2 separate regions of the Homo sapiens genome follow, and region 1 is linked to region 2. A link means that fine-mapping ties the variant in region 2 to the expression of a gene that starts in the linked region. Tissue or cell type: whole blood. Region 2 holds a variant in brackets; the other region holds the start of a gene. All regions are shown on one strand. Distances are from middle to middle.

Region 1 (8,000 bases), 140 kb after region 2:
TAACTGCAGCACTTACAAAATGAGGAGAATGTAGACTGCAGCCATACTACAATGGGACTTGTACGCAATGTTAAGGATTTCTAACTTTTCTCCATAGGGCAATGGACAGTCACTGATGGCTTTGAACACTGTAAAAAATATAATACATCTTTGTTTCAGGAAAAAAAATTTAGAAAGTAATTTACATAGTATTATGAAGCAGTAGAAAGCAAGAAGACTATAGGCAGGGAAACCAGCTTGAAGGTAACTATTGTCATCTAAAAAAGAGGTACTAAAGATTTGACCTAGAATTGTGAGAACTTGGATTTGAAAGACACTTCAAAGGGGAAAGGCACAGTTTTGAGGCTGGCTCTTGGCCAAGAAAAACAAGATGACAGAGTAAGAGTCTTGGTTCTCAATGGATGGTGATACATGGCACTGCACAGAGCAGTTAGTGGGTGCTCCATAAATATGAGATGGAATCAAATTTTTATAACCTGATAAAGAAATTAACTAAATTAACTTGGATTGGGCCAGGTAGAGAATTACAAAGCATCCACATGTCCAAAACAACCATATCCTTAAAATAAAAGTGAAAGAGAAACAAAATTAAGTGAAAGATTAAATACCAGTTGATAGAAAATACCACAGAATTATTTTTAAGCGGAAAAATAAAACCAAGACATCAGAATTTTTCCCTAAAGTATATTTTTAGAACTTTAGTCCCAAAATATATACCATAATAAAACAGATCCAAGGTCAAACACATTTGGAAAATGTTACCTGCCATAATCACCCTCGAATACATACCACAAACACTAGCATATAAAATACTCTGAAAAGTTCCATAATTTAAAACATTTAACTTTATTGAAGACAGAGTTTCTCAAACTTCTGACCATGAAACATTACCAAATCTTCCACAGAACCAGTGTCTCTAAGAACATATTGGAGAACACTATGCTTTGCAAAAAGTTCTCCAAATAATCAGACTTTCAATTAAATCAGAAGGAAGATTACAAGGCATGGAAACACACAAATACAAACCTTCAGGTGAAGTTTTTGAAGAATCCGAGTGAGCAACCGTGGAAATCTTCCTGTATCTATTGCATTTATCAGTGACACTGCTTTCTTCATGCTAAACAAAATTATAAAACAGAGTTTTGAAATGAGTTTTCCAAGTTGAACTGCACTTTCTATAGTTGTCTATAAGTTTTCATTCCAACAACTCTGAATGCTATATGGTAAATCTGAGTGAAATAAAAACAGATGACAGCCAGCAAAAAAGGCAGGGCAACGGGTACATTTCCAAAAAGATGCCCCCAAAATTACTTCTGCTGAAAAGGTCCATTTGGCAAATTTTCTCTTTCTTTTGGGCAAACCAAACTACTAGGGAAACCTTGTACTGCGCAGGGAAGAGCCTTAATTTAGTAGAGCGTTTATATAAACACTTAACCCAAAAATGGAACTCTGAAAGGGGTGGGAGGAGAGGAATAGCAATTATGGCAATTACACCAAAAACATAAAAGAATACTGCAAGGCAAATAACTTTTCAAATACTATGTACAAAATCATCTGGGGTCACTAAGCACACAGTTATTTTAAAACCCTGTTTCAACTGTAAAATCAAATTTATTATTACAACAGTAATCAATTTTGAGATAGGGTCTTACTCTGTCACCCAGGCTGGAGTGCAGTGGCACGATCTCAGCTCACTACAGCCTCTGCCTCCTGGGTTCTAAGAATCCTTGTGCCTCAGCCTCCCAAGTAGCTAGAACTACATGCGCGGGCCACAGCGCTGGCTAATTTTTGTATTTTTTGTAGAGACAGAGTTTTGCCCTGTTGCCCAGGCTGGTCTTGAACTCCTGAGCTCAATCAGTCCTGCAGTGGCTCACCCCTATAATCCCAGCACTTTGCAAGGCCAGGGAGGACAGATCACCCGAAGCCAGGAGTTCCAGACCAGCCTAGCCAACATGGTGAAACCCCATCTTTACTAAAAATACAAAAAATTAGCTGGGCGTGGTGGCGGGTGCCTGTAATCCCAGCTACTCAGGAGGCTCAGGGAGGAGAATCGCTTGAACACAGGAGGCGGAGGCTGCAGTGAGCCGAGATGGCGCCATTGCACTCCAGCCTGCGCAACAAGAGGGAAACGCCCTCTCAGGGAAAAAAAAGAGAGAGAGATTAGCCCGCCTCAGCCTCCCAAAGTGCTGGAATTACAGGCATGAGCCACAGCACCTTTCCTGTAATAATCAACTTTAAATGATGTGATGAGAACAATTCTATACTGCACCATATTGGATACAGTTTACTGATGTAGCGGTGTTCCCCAAGACACTGGTATGAGGAAAGAAACTGGCGATCAGAACCAAAGTGAGGCAGGAAAATAGGGTCAGGAGGCTGGGAACATAAAGCTGATTCCCACTTCAGCTATGACAAGAAATGTCCTCTCCATATGGCATAGGCGGAGAAAATGACTTTGTAACTTTACTTCATCCTCTTCATTTACATAGGGAGTACACCAAGTAACCAATGGAATCCTCTAGAGGGTATTTAAATTCCCAAAAATTCTGTAGGGGCCCTTCAGCCCCTATGCTCAAGCAGCTCCCACACTGTGGAGGGTAGTTTCATTTTCAATAAATGTCTTCTTCATTCTTTCCTCGCTTTCTTTGTGCGTCTTCTCCAGTTCTTTGTTCAAGACGCCAAGAACCTGGACACCCTCCACTGGTAACAAAAGGAATCCAGAAAGAAGGAAAAACTTTAAAATAACTCTTTTCTTCTGAAAGATTTCTACCCAATCCAAGCACAAAGAAATTACTTCCGAACACTATTTTGCCTATATACTTCAGTACTTTTTCTGTATCCACACGCTACCTGCACTATTGCTTATTTTTTCACAAATTGAGTCTTTTTTTACTTAAATAATGTTAAAGGGGAGCTTTATATCACTACCATGGACAACCAACTTTATCTACCATAAGTAGAAATTAACTAAAAATCTGTTTAAAATGCAAATAAAAGCAAATGCTACCAAAGCCAGGCTAGATTCTTCTACCAACCAAAAATTCGGTCCCCTATTCGATACTGATTTAAAAGGGGTATTAACACATGTTGGCTATTAAAGACCCTCCAGCAGCAGCGTGAGCCTTTCCCACCAGAGTGTCTGAACCGGAACTGAAATCGGAAACGGAATACCGTTCCACGTGATTCGGCAGCACTGAAGGCAGCACCCGGGAACTTCTGATACCAAACTCCGCGAACAGTGACGCAGACCCCACGCTTGCAGACCACACGCTTCCGTACAGACCTCAGCTGCCAGGCGCACTGTGAGCCCCACAGGTGGACCACCGTGACTGTAGAGGCGCTACACGGCCCCACGCACTCCGCAGACGCAGCGTCGCAACCTCGGCAGCCCACCCCACCCCACCCCACTCAACCGGGCCCGCCGCGGCGCCCAGGCGGCAGGCAGCAAGGACAGCCTTGTGCGAGCCCGATCTGGGCCTTCCTGGGCGCGGCTACCGCAAGAGCTTAACGGATCAGCTACCTGGGGCTCTCCCGTAGGATCAGCGCCGCGGGGACCGCCATCTTCGGCTTTCTCGCACTGCCGCCGTCTGTTAGCTGCGCCGAACCCAGCCAATGGCGGCCGCGGCGGACGGAAAGCCGGAAGGCCCAAGCCGCGCAGGGGCCGTTTTAGGGCTCCGGGTCTCCTGCGACCCGGGCGCCGGGAGACTTGTCCCGCAGTCCTGGAGGGCGGAGAGGGCAGCCCAGTTGCCCTCCCGACACTCCAATCGTGTTGGAGTTAAGTCTGTGCATATATATGTCTTTATATTTATATATTATATATGTATGTACATACCTGGATAGGGGTGTGTGTCTGTATTTAATAGGGCAGGTTTAAGCAAGTCTATGTACAGACCTGTATAGATATATGTGTGTATGTTCGTGCATAAATATATACATTATTATTTTTAATAGGGCAGGTTTAAGCAAGCCCGTGTATACATACTTGGATAAATGGTGTGTGCGTGTGTATATTTTTTTAATAGGGCGGGTTTAAGTGAGCCTGTGTGTACATACTTGGATAGGTGATTTGTGAGTATTTTTTTTTCCAGCGTTTGGGCTACAGAGAGGCAGGCATTTGAGCGAGCTCCCCCGAGCCTGCCCAGGAAGCGGCGCATCACCCCTCAGGAGAGGTGGTGCCTCCAGTTCCACCCTAAGCACTGTGCCGTCAACCCCTCCTGTATCTGCATCTGCAGGGCTTGTAGTATGTACGTTCAATTCCTTCAGCAACGTTCAATGAATGAGTGCCTACTGTGTACCAAGCACTGTTCTAGGCACTGGAGATACAAAAGGCCAAAATTCCTGCCCTCAGGGTTTGCCGGCAGTCTAAATGGACAAGTATTTGTTGCACCCTTCTTTAGAGTCTGACAGTGCAGAGTAGGGGAGATGAATCGCTGCAGTGAGTGATGTCAAAGACCTCACCCAAGACTAGGGAGACACCATGTTTGCATAAATACCTTGGTCTGCCTTTGAGAAAAACATGGAGTGAGTTAAAGGAATTCAGATGTGGGAGCAGTGAAAGGCATCCGAGGTAAGATCAGGAAAAGCTCCCTAGGGCAGGTGGCAAATGCGGTGGGTCTGCAGAGATGTGGAGGGTGAGGCTGTGTGTTTCAGGTCAGTAGAGTAGAAGGGCGGTTTGACGTTTGAAGAACAGGAATTTAGACTAGAAAAAGCCTTTAATGACTGGTTGTGGCATGTGCACTTAATCTGGTGAGAAATGGGTAAGCATTAAATGTTTTTTCTATCCATTAAATGTTTTGAACCAAAGAAATTTTGCAGTGGGAGTTGGATTTTTGAAGGTTGCTGTCAGCAGAATGATGATTGAAATGGAAAGAGGTAAGCAGGAGAGCTACCTGGAAACTACTGCAATAATCTATAGAAAGCAGTAAAATCCTGTGGTACTAAAAAGGCATTGGTGAATTAAAAGATAGTGGATGGATTAGTTACGTTTCAGCAGTAGAATATTCAAGAGCTGCCAAAAAATTGAATTTAATTTTCCTTCCTAATTATGTTTTACTTAAATTATTATTTAAATTAGTTGGAGTTCCTGGAGCAGCCCAAGAACAACCTAACTGAAAGGAGAAACCAGATTGCACATTAAATCTGAATAATCTCCACATGGATAATTGAGTCAATTATACAGTGTGTTGAACACATACAAATACATTTAGTTCCACAACACTCTACAGTCCCCAATGTATGCATATCTGAAAAAGATGTATGTGAATCTACATAAATTATAGGTCTCTGATCCAAACACAGATGACCTCATCTGCAACTTAAAAGGGTCCCAGTTCCCTCATTCTTTGAATCATTTCCCTTTTGTCTTGATTCCTTACCTGAAGTAGAACCACTAACCAACTAAAACTGTTTCAAATCCCTAATGAAGTTCACCCTCTGATTGCCTTAAAAATATATAGCCAGAATTTTGAGCAAAAGAGCATCAAGATGGCTCAAATCCCAAATCCATGTAACCTTGGACAAAGTACTTAACCTCAACAAGTTTCTCATTCCCAATCTGTAATGGGGATGAGAATAATGTCTGCTCCCTTGGATCTTAATGAGATTTAAATAATGTGGTACGTATGTAAAAGAAACATTCTACCCTCCTTAGAAAACAAAACCCAGACCTCTTAGGTGTTCACAAAAGCAAGTCTCCAGTGGACACAGAGGCGACTCACTCTAATGCTCTTCATTTTCAATGATGGGCTGATTACTTCTTATTACCATGTTTCTATAAAGGCGTGATGCTGTGAATAGTTTCACACCTCAAATGAGAACCTCACCCAAGATATTTCTGCATTCTCTGGAATATAGACATCTATGTCCATGAAAAGTCCTTTTAGTTGTCTGCTATTATTGTGTGGGAGTCTTAAGTCTCTTCGTAGGTCTCTAAGAACTTGCTTTAGAATCTGGGTGCTCCTATATTGGGTGCATATATATTTAGGATAGTTAGCTCTTCTTGTTGCATTGATCCCTTTACCATTATGTAATGCCCTTCTTTGTCTTTTTTGATCTTTGTTGGTTTAAAGTCTGTTTTGCTAGAAACTAGGATTGCAACCCCGGCTTCTTTTTGCTTCCCATTTGCTTGGTAAATATTTCTCCATCCCTTTATTTTGAGCCTATGTGTTTCTTTGCACACAAGATGGGTCTCCTGAATACAGCACACCAATGGGTCTTGATTCTTTATCCAATTTGCCAGTCTGTGTATTTTAATTGGCGCATTTAGCCCATTTACGTTTAAGGTTAATATTATGTGTGAATTTGATCCTGTCATATGATACTAGCTGGCTATTTTGCCCATTAGTTGATGTAGTTTCTTCATAGTGTCAATGGTCTTTACATTTTGGTCTGTTTTTGCAATGGCTGGTACTGATTTTTCCTTTCCATATTTAGTGCTTCCTTCAGGAGCTCTTGTAAGGCAGGCTGGTGGTGACAAAATCCCTCAGCATTTGTTTGTCTGTAAAGGATTTTATTTCTCCTTCGCTTATGAAGCTTAGTGTGGCTAGATAAGAAATTCTGGGTTGAAAATTCGTTTCTTTAAGAATGTTGAATATTGGCCCCCACTCTCTTCTGGTTTGTAGGGTTTCTGCAGAGAGATCCGCTGTTAGTCTGATGGGCTTCCCTTTGTGGGTAACCTGACCTTTCTCTCTGGCTGCCCTTAACATTTTTTCCTTCATTTCCACGTTGGTGAATCTGACGATTATGTGTCTTGGGGTTGTTCTTCTCGAGGAGTATCTTTGAGGTGTTCTCTGTATTTCCTGAATTTGAATGTTGGCCTGCCTTGCTAGGTTGGGGAAGTTCTCCTGGATAATATCCTGAAGAGTGTTTTCCAGCTTGGTTACATTCTCCCCATCACTTTCAGGTACACCAATCAAGCATACGTTTGGTCTTTTCACATAGTCCTACATTTCTTGGAGGCTTTTTTCGTTCCTTTTCATTCTTTTTTCTCTAATCTTGTCTTCATGCTTTATTTCATTAAGTTGATCTCCAATCTCTGATATCCTTTCTCCTGCTTGATTGATTCAGCTATTGATACTTGTGTATGCTTCACAAAGTTCTCATGCTGTGTTTTTCAGCTCCATCAGGTCATTTATGTTCTTCTATAAACTGGTTATTCTAGTTGGCAGTTCCTGTAACCTTTTATCAAGGTTCTTAGCTTCCTTGCATTGGGTAGAACATGCTCCTTTAGCTCAGAGGAGTTTGTTATTACCCACCTTCTGAAGCCTACTTCTGTCAATTCATCAAACTCATTCTCCATCCAGTTTTGTTCCCTTGCTGGTGAGGAGTTGTGATCCTTCGGATGAGAAGACGCATTCTGGTTTTTGGAACTTTCAGCCTTTTTGCGCTGGTTTTTTCTTATCTTCGTGGATTTATCTACCTTTGGTCTTTGATGTTGGTGACCTTCTGATGGGATTTTTATGTGGGTGTCCTTTTTGTTGATGTTGATGCTATTGTTTTTTGTTTGTTAGTTTTCCTTCTAACAGTCAGGCCCCTCTTCTGCAGGTCTGCTGGAGTTTTCTGTAGGTCCACTCCAGATGCTGTTTGCCTGGGTATCACCAGCAGAGGCTGCATAACAGCAAAGATTGCTGCCTGCCCCTTCCTCTGGAAGCTTTGTCCCAGAGGGTACCCACCAGATGCCAGCTGGAGCTCTCCTGTATGAGGTGTCTGTCCACCGCTGCTGGGAGGTGTCTCCCAGTCAGGAGGCATGGGGGTCAGGGACCCACTTGAGGAGGCAGTCTGTCCCTTAGCAGAGCTCAAGTGCTGTGCTGGGAGATCCGCTTCTCTCTTCAGAGCCAGCAGGCAGGAATGTTTAAGTCAGCTGAAACTGCACCCACAGCCACCCCTCCCCCAGGTGCTCTGTCCCAGGTAGATGGGGGTTTTATCTATAAGCCCCTGACTGGGGCTGCTGCCTTTCTTTTGGAGATGCCCTGCCCAGGAAGGAGGAATCTAGAGAGGCTGTC
Region 2 (8,000 bases):
GCTGTCAAGTCTTTATGCTTTGTCCTGCTTCTCTGCCTGCCTTGCCAGAAGAAGGTAAATTCGATCTTTTTATTTACTCAATCAATGTTGATCCTGCTAGGATTATCAACAATGGCAATCAATGCCAGTTCAAGTGGTTTTATTACATATGAATACCTGTCCCTAGAGACTGAACCCAAAATGCCTGTATCAGACTAAGCCATTACTGTGTCTGTCTGCCCCAGACTCAAAACAAATCATCAATCTTAGATACAAGTTCAATGCCTCATCTTTCATTCTATGAGTAGGATTAAAAATAGTGCAAAGGGAAATAATAAAAAATAATTATGTTTAAAGTAGATAAATTATAAATGCTCTCTATGTACTCCCTCTTTTATGCCTAAATGTAAAGACGAATCAGCATCTTTCTAATGTGAAACTTCTCTACTCTAAACTGTAATGTCTATAGGCAAATATTTATTTTACACTATTTTACAAGAAGATAAAATAATCTACCCTACCTAATACTATCCTGAGCTGGGAGTCAAAAATATGATTCCCACACTAAGTTTTCAACTACAAGAATATGTCTCAATGCTTATTTATTTCAGTAATTTTTCTTTGCTCATGACAAAAGAAAAAACTGAATTAAGAAACAGTTAAAGTTTGTTTATAATCAGGGCTAAGTTATGACATAAAACTAACAAGGAGAGAGTCACAGTGATCCTAAAAGATCTTATTTTAATAAGCTTGAAAGGAAAAGGATCAGAATCCAGACTTAATTTTCATTTACAATCCTAATATTCATGAAAAAACACAATTTATGCAACCACAAAAGCATTCATTCAAAAATCACAGCAGGACCATATTATTTCTTCAGGTTTAACTGAAACTTTGAAAAGAAAAGCAGCGGTCTATTAAAGGTTCTTTGTCAAAACTATTAATTAAAGCAAATTTTCAAACATTTTTTGAAACCTACAATTCTGGTTATTGAAATAAAAATTACTACATATGAAAGTGATAAATGTGGTACTTTCTTTAATTTGTCTATATTAATTTAATATTAACATATAGCTTGTGTCATTGGGCAAAATCAACAATGTGAATAAAATTTTATTTTTTGAACTTTAAATTTTAAAATTCTAGCCTAGAATACAAATGATGTTAGCTATCAAAATAATGATTTTGTGGCTGACGTTGCACTATATTTCATTTCTTCTCAGTTTTTAAAGGGGAATTAGAAGTTTATTTTTCAACCAAATCACTACAATAACTGTTATTTATTTGGCTTAAAACTCTTACCTGTAAGCAAACTTGAGATATTTTTTCTAATTTAAAGAAAGCAGGAATGAGGCCAAAGTGAATACCTTAAGAATCATAGTAACTGTATTCACATTCACTGCTGCAATGAAAAAAATCTCCTACCTCATAATCCTGTTTCCTATAAAAGATTTTAACCTCCATTGAAATGTATGTGCATTATTCTGATGACATTTTATTCTCTCTTTTGCCTTGCTGACATTTATAACATGACCTAGTTTGGCTAAAATTACCAGGTGAAAAAATTAGCTGCAGTGTGATAAGTGATTTTACCTAGACACGATGTCTGGTTCCCACTGGTATACATACACACTGATGTCCCTGGGTGAGAGAACTAATTCCTTCTACTTGTCTTTTTCATGATTAAAGGCACTGATAGTAACTTTTTAACATTCCTTGCTTCTAAGCTGAGAAACTGAAAAGCTGTGTGAATGCTCGGCATCACCAATCAAGTCAGAAAACACAAGGAGAAAAAACATCCTGAAGCCAATGCCTTGGAAAATGAAGATAATAAGAATAAAATCACCTAAGTGGGCAGCCTTAGTATTTCTGGACATGTTCCATAACCCCCACAGGTAATAGTGGACGGGTTATTACCTGTGGCAGAGGAGACAAAACATAAATGTGGAATTTGAAGCAGAGTACTATTTTGTGGCAGGATGTATAAATTGAACAAACATTTTTTTCAGGTCATATTAAAGATGTAGAGAAAATGGGATTTCAAAGATCTTGTGAAAGACAAAAGGAAATCAGAAGAATATCTAAAATGAACTGATGGAGAATAAAGAGGCTGGATAACCACAATTAAATTACCAGAAAGTTATCAGAATTATTGGTAAGAATAATGTTTGTTCAAAGGAAATCAAGCCCTGTTGAAGGAGAATGAGATGCTCCATTAACGAGAAAACAAGGCCCTTATTTCAAGGGCCTTGAAATGAGAAAAGATCACCATGAAATTTCTGTTAAAAGCGAGCTAAATCTAGTGCTAAAGTAGTGATACTTTTTAAGCGATCAACTTAATTTATGGCAAGGATAGTGAACCTATAGCACAGATAGATACAGACCCTGCTTTCCTGCTTACCACTCTGTAACACCAGAAGGCAAAAGAGGGGGAGAGTGAATCAGATAAACAGTATACAATGGAGCAGTAAACTTATCTACACTTCGGGCCTGGGGCATAAAATAATATGAACTCATATGAAATGAGAGTGAAATGGGAGAACGTCTGAAAAAGAGTGTTTAATATTTGAAACTGAAACTCAGCAATCTGACCATATGTAAAGTCTTTAGTAATTCATACTTCCTGCAACTTTAACAGAAAATAGGAATATCCTTGAAATTCCACATTTATGTTTTGTCCTGTCTCCCAGATGCCAGTCCACTGTTACCTGTGAGGGTTATGGAACATGTCCAGAAATATTAAGGCCATCTACTTAGATGATTTCATTTCTATTATCTTTATTTCCCAAGGTATTGGCTTCAGGAATTTTTTTTTTCCCTTGTGTTACTACAGGGCTTGGTTTTCTAAGTTGATTGGTGCTTTTTAGTCCCAAGTCCCCCAATATTGCTACTAAGTTCAATGCCGAACTATTTTCCAATCAAATGTCTAGATATCTGCAGCAGTGAAAAATAGTGACTCTAAATGCACTACTAAATAGAGACACACATGTAATTAACAGAAACTGAGGAAAGTCCATCAGCTGAAATATAATTTGCTGTTCTCAAAAAAAAAAAAAAAAGGGAAGTACAAAGTGCAAACATGAACTTACAAATTTGGAAGAGTTGAGGTGTAAGTTAATGTCTAAAACATCATTTGAATTTCATTGAATGTTTAGAAGCCCTTGTTTTAAATGTACTATTTGAAATCAATAGGGATGAAGTAGTTTAACTTCTGATCATGCTGAAAAACTGACGTGGTCATACAAAACCCCAGAGATACCAATAATAAGATACTAGATTAAAGCAAACAAACTACTTGAAGATACTTCAAACTTTCAAATGCAGACATAAGGCTGAAGAGAGTTTTATTTTGAAAACTAGAAGGGGTAAGAATTGAGAGTTCATACTGGCTGCAAGGCACTGACCAAACTCCATAGCTACAGCTACAAAAAAGGAGAAGAAAAAAATGGCATCGCACTGGCTAAAGATGCTAGAACTTGGAGTGGAGAGCTGGAAAAAGAGCTGAAAATTTAAAGGAAAAATGTTAGCACCAAGCTAATCACAGAAGGCACGAGACTCAAATTCAGAGCACAAGCTACACAAATTCCTAGCTGACAACAAAATTTACACATGAGCAAGGGAGGCCTATGAAGCCTAGTGAAAAAGCAGGAAGAGAAAAAAAAAAAAACAAGATTTTAGAATCTGTGATTCTTTTATTAACTGAGAACATTTTTCAATCATTTACAGCTTGAGTGGTAGAAAGATGAATCTAGACAGGCTTGATGTGTCAGAGTATAGGGCCCAAAGCTGGCATGGCTACTGTCAATTAGGAGGAAATTCTGAGACACAAAGAAACAACAAAGAAGATGAGCATCTGCCAAAATCTTTGGGCTACCACACTGTGCATATACAAGGGGGACCTATAGGTGTTCAGGCTAACAAAGCAGCAGAGGAAAGGTGTAAGCTGAATACCTCACAGGAGACAGTTTGTGGTTTCAACCCAAGGAAGTTAATTGCCTACTAGAACAAAAAACCAAGGTCCTCAAAAGAATATGACAGAACCCAGAGTCATTTCACCATATGTTTCCCAATGTCTAGTTTTCAACCAGAAATTTCTACATATGCAAAAAAAAAAAAAAAAA[T/AAT]CCCCAAAAAAACAAACAGGAAAGTCTTCAGGAAATTACTTAAGAAAAAATACACTCAATACAAATGACTCTAACTGGGCTCAGACATTGAATTTAGCAAGTAAAGTAATTCAAAAAAGCTATTATAAATATATTCAAAGAACTGAAGAAAAATATGCTATCAGTGAGTGAACACAGAATAAATCTCAAGAGAAAAAAAGAAACAACAAAAACAGAAAACTCTAGATCTAAAAAGTATAATAAGTGAAATAAAATATTCACCAAATGGTCACAGCAACAAATTGGAAATGGCAAAAGAATCAGTACAACTGCATTATGGGTTAGAAGCCCCATAAACTAAAGATTAGCCTACAGATTGTTAAAGGATATTATATAAAATGTTAAAGTAACATTCTTATCCATCTTTTATTTAAATGTAAAAGAAAAGATTTAAACAATATTGTAATGTTTTATTCACTACAAGCCTAAATGTTATCACAGAACCATGAACTATCAAATACTCATCAGCATTTAAAGTCAAAATAAAATGTAATGCCAACAAAATTTAGTATTAATTCAATCAACAAATACTTCATCAACAATATCCCGGGTGATACGGTTTGAATGTTTTGTCCCCTCCAAACCTCATGTTGAAATAGGATGTCTAATGCTGGAGGTGGGCCTAGAGGGAGGTGTTTGGGGCTTGGGGGAAGATCCCTCATGAATGGCTTGGTGCTGTCCTCACAATAAATGAGTTCTCGCTCTGAGTTCATATGAGATCTGGTTGTTTAAAAGAGTGCGGCACCGCGGCCCCGGACCCTTGTTCCCTCCTCTCACCATGTGATATGCCAACTCCCCTTTTGCCTTCCACCATGATTGTAAGCTTCCTGAGGCCTTACCAGAAGCAGATGAGAGCACTACACTTCCTGTACAGTCTGCAGAAACATGAGCCAAAATAAATATCATTCCTTTGTAAATTACCCAGTCTCAGATATTCCTTTATACCAACAAAAATGGATTAATATACTAGGCAATGGCTGGGAACTGTAGAGACAGTAAGTAAACACAGAGATGGCTCCTATCTACATAGAGTTTCCTAATTCTAGTGAACAGGAATAAACGAATTCCCAACTGAAGTCCTCATATAGACTCATGATTTATTTGAGTAGCAAGATTTATGAACTATTTCTCATTGAAAAGATACATTGGTTCAATTTTTTAAAAGGATTAAGAGTTAAACTACCAACCCCAGAATCCTTAGAACCTGGATTAAGAAACAGAAAGATCACCGTTAAATGAATAGTCCAAGAGATGGAAGTGGAAAATGGAAGCTTTGTTCTTAAAAAACGTAAAAGAGACAAACAGTAAAACCATTTCCATGGTCTTATAATGCTGCTCCAAACACATGCATTACTTTTAAAAAAATTTATAAAATGAATTCAGCACATGGAAACATAAAAATACTGTTAAGCAGTTCAGCAAAGAATACCAAATGGAATAACCTTCATTCTTAAGGCTATGTTGAGTGCCTTATTTTAATCAGGTAATTTCAAGTGTTGCCTTTGAACCATTCCAGTCTGGCTTCACCTCTTCTCACTGCCTCCACTCCTACGATCATGAACTTCTTTCAGGGTATCTTACAATACATTATAGTCGCTTCAGAGTTTTTGAACATACTATTCCTACACTCCAATAACATTCTCTCCAAACCCCTTCTGTCCCTCTCTGACTCAACCTTACGGTCTCACCTTATAGTCTGGCACAAATTTTTCCCGAGCTTCTCTGGATTAGGTTAAATCTCCCTGGACTATGTTCCAAAAGCACCATGAGCTTTTTGCTTTCTTAGAACTTCTAAAATTTCTAATTAGAAATTTAATGTTTCATTGACCAGGATGTGTGGAAATATATTCCCAGAGTCTGAGACAGTTTCTAGTACCTAATTTGGAGCTGAGTAAATATTTGTTAAATAAACATTAAAATAAAATATAGATAGCCATATCCTTACTATTTTTTTTTGTTCCACATATTACATTGTAATAAGAACTTTTTTTCTCTGGTGTATACATTTAACTTATCTTATACTTCTCAATACTAAATAAAAATCCTCTGACTTTTCTAAATTAGTTCCTAGATTTGATTTCCTTACATTTTATCCTATCTCCTTTTTTTCAAAAAAAAATCCAATATAGAAAATATCTGACTTCTGTTAAGACTAATATTTATAATTTATAGGTGACAGCAAAATATAGTGAAAAATAGCAACTTCAAAGAAATAAGAACATAGACAAGTAAAATTAAAATAACACAATCTATGACATATTTTATATACTCCAATCAAGAGCAATCTGAAGATATCAACTAAAATAACCATAGTATTAAAAAGGGCGGCTGAGCGCAGTGGCTCACACTTGTAATCCCAGCACTTTGGAGGCTGAGGTGGGTGGATCACAAGGTCAGGTGTTCAAGACAAGCCTGATCAACATGGTGAAACCCTGTCCCTACCAAAAATACAAAAAATTAGCCAGGCGTGGTGGCATGTAACTGTAGTCCCAGCTACTTGGGAGGCTGAGGCAGGAGAATCGCTTAAACCTGGGAGGCAGAGGTTGCAGTGAGCCGAGATGGCACCACTGCATTCCAGCCTGGGCAACAGAGCAAGACTCCCTCTCAAAAAATAATAAACAAATAAATAAATAGGCTAAATGTTGTTTTCTTTTGAATTCTAGCTCTTTTGTGAACAAAAGGCCAAAATGAAAAACTGAGATAATTTCTTGTAAGATTATCTTTCTGTCCAGCCTCATGTTCCTGAAAAGAACATTAAATTCCCTCATAAAACATAGTGTCAACTTTACAAATACAAGTAGACTTTATTCTACTTCTAAAATCATATTCCCACTGAACTAGATGAGTCAATGAGTCAATTTAATATAATTTGAATATAAGACTTTGATACCCTAATGGGTACAGAAACTATAATTGTTGACCAGAATAATTCTAATTCATACTAAAAAGATTCCATGTTTTTACCAAAAGAGATTTCAGGATGAGATTTCCAAATTAAAATATTAAAATTTAATTCCAATAGTCAAAACTAAGTTTTGTTAAGGTCCATACAGACTGCCTTACTATTTATTTTCTTCAACTCTTGAGAATGTTTTCATGAGAATAGAGTAACAGACTTAAATTAGATTTGACTATCACTGAAGAGAGTAAGAAGTTACAATTTCATCTCAATTATGCTCTGTGTCCTTCCCTAACTTCTTAACATCCCAGATGGCATTAACATTCTTTTTCCTCCTATGACCACATCTCTATTTGGAACATATACACTTATCAGTATTATCTGCTGCACCAAGGCTTACCCACATCCACTCCTGGTAACTAAAGAAGATGCGGACATTGACAGATTCAGTTCATCTTTTCACAACCTGCTAAAACAGGCTTGATTTTTTTCTGGTTGAACTGCCTGCCTATCTACCTCCCTCCCTTCCTATCTACCTGTCTATGTTATGTGTTCTCTGGTAAGAAAAAATGTGGGAAAATAAGCAAAGGACTCCAAAAATCCATCTTTACTTTGCTCTTGGCTTCCTACTCATTTAAATAAAGAATGGTGGCTAGAACAACTAAAGCATAATGTTGAAAAACAGAAGCTATCCTGCACCTTTCAAAACGTAATAATGCTACATTTCATCTGTGCATAGCCCACAGTGAGGAGATGCAGGTATCTACACTTTTCCAAAGTCAAACCAAATAATTACTACTAAGACCTAAACCTAAGACCTTTTCTTCACAGCATTTCTAAGAGATCTTGAAAACACAGGCTCTCACCAGGGTTCTGTAACTAACTAGCAATGTAACCATGAGTAACTACATAGCCAAGAGTATCCTCAGTAATAAGATTAAGGGACTGGTGTTTAGATTCAA

The links. PIP is the estimated chance that this variant, and not a neighbour inherited with it, causes the effect.
Region 1: COMMD10 starts here. The variant in region 2 is fine-mapped to the expression of COMMD10 in whole blood (INTERVAL, PIP 0.94).

The regions. Positions count from the first base shown.
Region 1 is chr5:116,080,614-116,088,613 of GRCh38, reverse strand. It overlaps COMMD10 (COMM domain containing 10), which reads right to left and starts at 3,589. Exons shown (of 7, transcript NM_016144.4): 1 at 3,521-3,589; 2 at 1,027-1,117. The coding sequence starts at 3,561. RefSeq lists enhancers at 3,048-3,342, 3,636-3,795.
Region 2 is chr5:116,221,455-116,229,454 of GRCh38, reverse strand. The region is part of intron 5 of COMMD10 (COMM domain containing 10); the gene reads right to left. Among named protein-coding and RNA genes, the nearest start is that of MIR12130, 30 kb to the left of the region's middle. The variant T/AAT (reference allele first, on the strand shown) is at 4,101.